2 separate regions of the Homo sapiens genome follow, and region 1 is linked to region 2. The links come from fine-mapping of genetic effects on gene expression. A gene starts in region 2. The other region holds a variant in brackets. All regions are shown on one strand. Distances are between the middles of the regions.

The links. PIP is the estimated chance that this variant, and not a neighbour inherited with it, causes the effect.
Region 1: its variant is the best candidate, but not a certain one, in a credible set for the expression of CSTA in vagina (GTEx, PIP 0.81).

What each region holds. Positions count from the first base shown.
Region 1 is chr3:122,114,997-122,119,402 of GRCh38, forward strand. It overlaps CD86 (CD86 molecule), which reads left to right. Exons shown (of 7, transcript NM_175862.5): 6 at 3,052-3,097. Among named protein-coding and RNA genes, the nearest start is that of CD86, 62 kb to the left of the region's middle. The variant A/G (reference allele first, on the strand shown) is at 2,008.
Region 2 is chr3:122,323,076-122,327,481 of GRCh38, forward strand. CSTA (cystatin A) reads left to right here and starts at 2,173. Exons shown (of 3, transcript NM_005213.4): 1 at 2,173-2,283. The coding sequence starts at 2,218.

The sequences.
Region 1 (4,406 bases), 210 kb before region 2:
CATTGTACTGGAGGTCATAGCCAGAGAAACAAGACTAGAAAAAGAAATAAAAGACATACAGATTGGAAAGGAAGTAAAACTGTCTTTTTTCACAGATAATGATCATGCTTGTAGAAAATCCTGAGGAATCTATCAAAAACCTATTAAAACTGATAAGTGAGTGTAGCAAAGACACAGGATACAAAGTCAATACACAAAATCAATTATTTCTATATACTAACAAAAGCAATTGTACATTGAAAAAAATTAATAGCATTTATAATAGCATCAAATAATATTAAAAACTTGGAAATAAATTTAACAAAACAAGTACAAGGTCTATATACTGAAAACTATACAATATTACTACTGGAGAAATTAAAGTAAACCAAAATAAATGGAGACATAGGCCATGTTTATGAATCAGAAGACTAGATGTTAAGATAACCATTCTCTCCAAGTTGATCTATGGATTAAATGTAATCACAATCAAAATCCTGGTAAGCTCTCTAATAGATACTAAAAATCTTACTCGAAAAGTTATAGGGAAATGCAAAGAATCTACAATTGCCAAAACAATTCTGAAAAATAAGAACAAAGGTTAAAAATACAAAATTAGCCAGGCATGGTGGCGCATGCCTGTAATCCCAGCTACTCTGGAGGCTGAGGCAGGAGAATTGCTTGAACCCGGGAGGCAGAGGTTGCTGTGAGCTGAGATCGTGCCATTGCACTCCAGCCTGGGCAACAAGAGTGAAACTCCCTCTCAAAAAAAAAAAAAAAAAAAAAAAAAAAGAACAAAGGTGGACTTAACCTACCTAATTTCAATATTTACTATATATAGTAATTAATACAGTGTGATATTGGTAAAAGGACAGACATATCAGTCAATGGAACAAAATAGAGAGTCAAAAATAGATTCACACTGTTGACAAAGCTACCAAGGTAATTCCATGCAGAAAGGATAGTATTTTCAACAAATAGTGTTGGGACAATTAGATATCCACATGGAAAAAGTATGAACCTAGACACACACAAAGTAACTTATATATTAAGAATTAAAATGAAAGGACTTCCAAAAGAAAACAGAGGAGAAAATCTTTGTAACCTTAAGTTAGGCAAGTCTTCTTAGATAGGACACAGAAAGCAAAAACCATATCATAAAAAGATAAAATGGATGTCATCAATATGGAAAACTTTTGTTCTTTGACTTTGTTTAAAAAACGAAAAGTCAAACCACAGACAGGGAGAAAACGTTTGCAAAATATATATCTGATAAAGGACTTGTATCCAGTATATAATTACATATTGCTACTCATTAGTAAGAAGACAATCCATTTAATAAAAGGCAAGAAGAAGAGACTTGAACAGATACATAACAGAAGAAGATATACAGATGGCCGATGAGCACAGTCACAACATCATTAGTCATCAGGGAAGTACAAATTAAAACGATAATGAGATACCACTGCACACCCTCTAGAATGGCTAAAATTAAAAGGTCTGATAAACATCAAGTGTTGGAGAGGATATGAAGCAACTGAAACTCTCATATACTGCTATACAACCCAGAAATCCTAGACATTTACCAAACAGAAATTTTAAAAAATTTAAAAATATATAAAGACTCATACACAAATGTTCATAGCAGCTTGCTTCATAATACCAAACCTGGCATTCTAAATTTTCATCAGTTGGCGGTGGTATATTTATACAATGAAATACTGCAAAGCTATAGAAAGGAATGGACTACTAATAATACACAAGAACATAGATAAATTTCAAAAGCATTATGCTAAGTGAAACAATCCAGGCACAAGAAGAATACACATTATACAATTTCATGTATATGAAATTTGAGAAAAAGCAAAACTATTTTAAGTAGATTCATGGTTATCCATGGGATGGGGGAAAGGAATCAGCTGAAAAGCGAACTATTTTGGCTTATAAAAATGTTCTCGATCTTGATTGTGGTGGTGGTTACGTGACTATATATATTCGTTAAAATCACCAAACTCTAAACTGAAAATG[A/G]TTGGGTTTTATTATTTATTAATTATACCTCCATAAAGCTGATTGTTTTTATCTTTTATTTTTATTTTATTTCAATAGTTTTTGGGGAACAGATGGTTTTCGGTTACATGGATGAGTTCTTTAGTGGTGATTTCTGAGATTTTGATGCACCTGTCACCCGAGCAATGTCCACTGTACCCAATGTGTAGTCTTTTATCCTTCATCCACCTCTCTCTCACTCTTCCCCCCAAGTACCCAAGTCCATTATATCATTCTTATGACTTTGTGGCCTCATAAAAGCTGATTGTTTTTAAATACACACATACACACATAAAAGAGAACTTCCAGTGACAGGAAGTGTTCAAGAATGCTCTATTTAGTAAAGACAGAATCACAAAACCATCAGAGGTATTGTTGAGTGGATTCTTGTGGTCTATAAATACCTCCATGGACACCCAGGTTAGCAACCTGTTGGAGTTTACGTGGGACAATAGCATCATCACAACAGTCAGCCTAGAGAAATTTACATCCCAAGTTGTGTCAGTAGCAAGTCCCTATCAATAGCAACTCAGGCTTTGTGAGGTCTAGCTGGCTAGAAATTTCCCACTTGGCCTTGCCCATGCAACATTGTGTAATATTCTTAGCACCATCTGGCTAGCCGATTTAGGCATCAACATCTTCAAGACTTCTTCTCCTCCTCCTTATAAACCTTGCTTTCAGAAAAGGATTAGAAACTCTTCCAATCACAAAATGATTGCTAAAACTAAATATATTACCCCTCCCAATGGTATTTTTTGGTTAGCCAGGATAGAGATATAAGTGAAAAATCTATTTCCAGTGTTAGAATTTAAGGCACAGTGAGAAAGGGAAGGCATATACTTTTTGAATGCAAGAAACTTCTTCCCAATCCCCCTGAAATTGCATCATTTGAGTAACTATCTCTTCCATATATAAAGTCACAACAATTTCTCTCTCAGTCCCAGAACTTTGAAGCCTTTTCAAACTTTCCTTCTTTTGGTATCTAGGAGGAATACATTTTTGAAGATTGTTCTTGGTGTCTTTCAGGAACCAACACAATGGAGAGGGAAGAGAGTGAACAGACCAAGAAAAGGTAAATCCTGACCCTGAGACATTGATGAGAGAGAGGTATAATCCCCAGAGTGCCTGTTACTTGAATAGGCTTATGCCTAACATATGTTGAGACCTCAGCAAACCTGAACTAATGGAGAGGGAGAGGAAAATAAAACTAGTTAAGAACTGGAAGAAAATAACCTGATAATGGATGACAGGGTATCCAATGCACAATGCCCAGAAAGCATGACAAGCTCTGTCATGGTCAAGTAAAAGTCAATACCAAAGACTTCAGAGGTGGTGAACATGGGCTTCATCTTATCTGCCACAGTAACCCCAGTACCTGGCACAGTGCCTAGATTAGTGGGCATCCTACATGTGTGGAATGAATAAATGAAGAAGTGGGGAATGATAACATGTTTGCTTCAGCCTGAGCATCTTAGTATTTGCTATGGCCCTGTTTAGATGTTCTTCTGCCACTTCTTTACCTCATTCTTCAGATCTTGCCTCAAGCAGCACTTTCTTAAAAACCCTTTCCCAAACTAGAAAATGTCAACTTGTTACAGTGTCATGTGGATCCCTTGGCTTTTTCTTAATAACACCAGATTATGCTTACATATTTGTGTAATTATCTTATTAAACTCTATAAACTAGACTTAACTAAATCCTATGAAGAGCAGAGACCATACCAGTTAAGCTCATCATTGTGCTGCTAGCACTTAGCATGGTGCCTGGCATATAGCAGGTTCTCAATAAATGTTGAAAGAATGATTGATGCATGATGAATACATAAAAGTTCGTGGTGATCAGTCCTTTCACAACGTGAAGCTATCAGATAGTCTGTACCTCTATCCCTCCTGAGAAATTAAGCTCTCAGGAATATCAAGGCTCTGACTGCATACCCATAGGATCAAAGCAACCCTCAGTCACAAGCCTGGTTTCAGAGATAGGGTCATAACCCCCAGGGTGCAGAGACAACCGAGAGTACCCAGCACTAATCCAGATATACCAGCCACTGTGATTCTAGCAACAAAACTAATAATTCCGGGCACCCTTGGACAATGAGAAAGGGTGCTGAAATCCTGCCTACCCTGTCACACTCAGTTTCAGAAATGGTCTGGAAGAGCCTGCAGAGGGCAGGCAGCAGAGAACCGGCAGAGGGCATGGGAAGGGCCAGGCAGAAATAAAGGGTAGCTCTTGAAGCATAGATGACAGTGTAGACCGTGGTTCTTTTCTCTTGCTTTCTCCACCTTTCTCTTCAATAGTTTGTTTCTCCTCATTGCTGTTCCAATGGCAACCTCTATTCTGCCCTATCATTGAAATCTAGAAAAAGAAAGTAGCTCAAATGT
Region 2 (4,406 bases):
AAGGGTAGACTTGTGGTTTACCATATCTCTTACCACTGGGGAGATTCAATAAGGATGGCCTGGACTAGGATGTCAGCAGACAACTAAAAATGGGCTTCAGGCTTGGAAAAACGTCAGGGGCCTTAATATGAAAGGACTTGACTTGGGGAGGTCACATGAAGATGAGTAGAACCAGTGGCCTATGAAAGCTGAGCCAAAGTCTTCAGATGACCTGTGGCCTCTTGAGGGAGCACCTTGTCATCCACATTCGCTGTTCTTCTTAATCCACAGGGTAAAGGCATTCTATGGAGAGATACTTGTGTAGCACCCCTTAGTTTAGCCTGTAAGACACTCACTTAGCTCCAAGAGTTTGCCAAGCACCCACCAAACATCATTATAAAGAAACAAGCACCTCCCTGTATTGTGATATAGAACAGTCTCCAAAATATATTGTTAGGAATAAAACAAAAAGTATAATAATTTATGTAGGATACCATTTTTATAAAAGAAAACCTATATAGATGAATATGTATCTATGTGTGTGTGTGCGTGTGTGTGTAGCCAATTTTTTTTTTTTTTTTTTTTTTGAGACACAGTATTGCTCTGTCACCAGGCTGGAGTGCAGTGGCGCGATCTTGGCTCACTGCAACCTCTGCCTCCCAGGTTCAAGCGATTGTCCTGCCTCAGCCTCCTGAGCAGCTGGGACTACAGGCGCACGCAACCACGCCCAGCTAATTTTTGTATTTTTAGTAGAGATGGGGTTTCACCATGTTGGCCAGGATGGTCTCAATCTCTTGACCTTGTGATCCACCCACCTCGGCTTCCCAAAGTGCTGGGATCACAGGCGTGAGTCACCGTGCCCAGCCTCCAATTATTTTTATATTTGTATGTGTAAAGAATGTCTCTGAAGGATACAGAAGAAGTTGGTGCCAATAATTGTCTCTGGAGAGTAGAAGGGTGTCTGAGGAATTAAGTGAGTGAATAATTCCTTATATTGTAAAGCCTGGTTCCTTCCAAACATTTTTATCCTGTGTATGTATTATATATTCCCAAAATTGAATAAAATAATATACATAAATATTCACACAATGTGGCCATTTTGCTTCTAGATAAGTTGTCTGCAGAAGCCCTCACTCATGTAAAAAGGAGAAAAAATGCAACGTTGTTTGTAAGAATGAAACACCAGAAACAACGAAAATCGTCATCAATAGAGAAATGAGTATGTAAAATATGAACTAGAATATAGCAATTAGATAGGTAGACTAAATAGATAGGTCTAGCATAAAATAGCATATCACAGTTAAAGGAAATGAACAGGATTGATCTATCTGTGGATTGATCTATGTGTATATCAACATAGAAAGGCTCAAAAACATGTTGAATAGAAAAAGGAACATAACATAGAATATATTTAGCATACAATTTAAGTGAAATTTTAAAGACACACCAAGTAAGACATATTTTAATTTTAAAGACACACATATAAAAATGGCCTGGAAGGATATTAATTCACCATGTACTTTGCCTTCTGGAAGGCAAGGTTGCGTGGGGTGTGGGGCTTCCTCCATATCTGTAATATTTTATTTCCTAAAAATAACTACAAAAATAAAAAACAGCAAGCAAATATGACAAAAGGGTTAAAAGTTTTAATTCTGAGTGATAGAAATATAGATGTTTGTTATTTTATTCTTTGTGTTTTACCGTATGTTAAACATTTCCAGATATTTAAATAAGAGTAAAGAAGACACATCCAGCCAAGGTCCTCCAGATAGATCCTTTTGCTTTCTTTCTAAAGTCAAGTAAATTCTAAACTAACCTTGACATTATTAGTAAGTTTTGCTTTAAAAAAAATAAAATTTTGTGTTAGAAGTTTTAAAACATTTGGAAATTCTAGTTGCGGCTTCAGATTTCATAATTCAGATGATGCAACAGGATGGAACCATTGTCAAAGAGAATGCAGGGACGTTTGATGCTTGTTAGGACATGACTCCTGTACTTGCCCATTTGTTCATCCTCCAACCCCTCTTTCTTCCAAATTCCATGTAGCATATTCTCTCCAGGAAGCAAGAAGACTTGCCTGGCGGCATACTCATTTTCCCCATGCCTCTTTGCTGTTTGTGGAAAATAAAGCATTCTATAGGCGGAGCTAGTGAACGCCTCTTTTAAAACACGAGTCTCCACACTTCCCTGTTCACTTTGGTTCCAGCATCCTGTCCAGCAAAGAAGCAATCAGCCAAAATGATACCTGGAGGCTTATCTGAGGCCAAACCCGCCACTCCAGAAATCCAGGAGATTGTTGATAAGGTGAGTTGATGCCATTCAGGAAAAAGTCTGAGCCAAAATCTTGATTCATAAGTTGTCCCTGTGGAAAGGCTGTGGTTGAACATGAAAACCAGAAGTTTAGGATGTTTGTGGCTTTGTTCAGGTTTCTTTACAACTAAGATGAAATAAGAGTTTTTCAGATGAAGCCTCAAATAATCCCCAAACTGTGAGTGTGACCTTGAGCAAATCACATTTCTTCTCTGAGCTTCATTTTCTCCATGGGTAAAAGAATTTGTATTGTATCTTCTCTAAAGCTCTTACAAGATATGATTCTAGAATTACTAATTCAGTTTCTGATGAAACTTTTCTAATCTCACCAAGTGAAGCCAACGTGTAATTGAAGTCTAAGGTTATTAACAATTTGATGAAGTAGTCTTGGAATGCACTGCAGGGAAAATTTTTTTAAATAGATTGAATGAAGAATAATATTGTAAAGGCAATCTACTTACAAACTTCATACACTTTTGCCCAAATAGATAGTGTTTTAGTCTTTTCATAGTTAAAAGGTAATTCAACTAATAGAACAGAGGTGACAGTCTATAGTGACTCCGAAATGTCATAGGGCACCAAATTATATATGGAAAAATAGAACTCAATGTTGTTAGCAGATTGATGTGTTTTTCACTTCTTCTTTTTTGTTTTGTTTTGTTTCATTTTTAAGAGATGGGGTCTCACTCTGTCACCCAGGCTGGAGTGCAATGGTCTGATCACGGCTCACTGTAGCCTCAACTTTTTGAGTTCAAGCGATCCTCCCCACTCAGCCTCCTGAGTAGCTGGGATTACAGACATATGCCACCACGCCTGGCTGATTTGGGGGGTTTTGTTTTGTTTTGTTTTTAGAGATGGCATTTCATTCTGTTGCTAGACTGGTCTTGAATTCCTGGGCTCAAGCCATCCACTCACCTAGGCTTCCCAAAGTATTGGGATTACAGGCGTGAGCCACCACACCCATCCCTGATATATTTTTCTTTGTGTGATTAGCTATCATCTAGCTATGTAGTAAACATTTATTTGCATATTTTATGAAAGGAAAACATGTACAAATTACTACTTTAGGTTTTTAGTTTGTTGCCTTATTTTCTTATATTATTCCTTCTTATTTTTTCTCTCTGAAACATCATTCTATGACAGCTTGGAAAACAAGATCAGCTTTTTGTGTGATTATAAGAGTTGGGATCCTGTATATTCTGGGAACTAGAAAGCTCTCTAAGGGGCCAGATGCCTAGAATCCCATCACTCATTCTTGGGGACTAATTATTTCTCTTTCAAGAGTTCTTTTTTTAAATAAATATCTTGGAGCTTTTTTCCTGGGAGATGATATTAAGTCAGTAATGTCTTCATGTGAATCCCCAGATCAGATCAATGTTCTCAAACTTGAATGTGCACATGAATCACCTGCACGTCTTGATAAACCTTAGATTCTGATTCAGGGGACCTGGGGTAGGTCTGAGATTCTGCATTTCTACCAGACTCCCAAGTGCTGCTGCTGCTGCCACCCATGGCCTTGCTTGCTGGCAGGACCAGAGATATATGGCATCCTACAAGGCCAGTGGGAGATGGGGCTTTAAAAGTCAGGGTGCAGGCTGGGCTCAGTGGCTCATGCCTGTAATCCCAGCACTTTGGGAGGCTGAGGCAGGTGGATCACAAGGTCAGCAGTTCGAGACCAGCCTGGCCAACATGGTGAAACCCCATCTCTACTAAAAATACAAAAATTAGCCGAGCATGGTGGTGGGTGCCTGTAATCCCAACTACTCAGGAGGCTGAGGCAGGAGAATTACTTGAGCCCAGGATGCAGAAGGTGCAGTGAGCCAAGATAGTGCCTGCACCCCAGTCTGGGCAACAGAGCAAGACTCTGTCTCAAAAAAAAAAAGGGCCAGGCGCAGTGGCTCACACCTGTAATCCCAGCACTTTGGGAGGCCGAGGCGGGTGGATCACGAGGTCAGGAGATCAAGACCATCCTGGCTAACACAGTGAAACCCCGTCTCTACTAAAAAATACAAAAATCAGCTTGGCGTGGTGGCGGGCGCCTGTAGTCCCAGCTACTCGGGAGGCTGAGGCAGGAGAATGGCGTGAACCCGGGAGGTGGAGTTTGCAGTGAGCCGAGA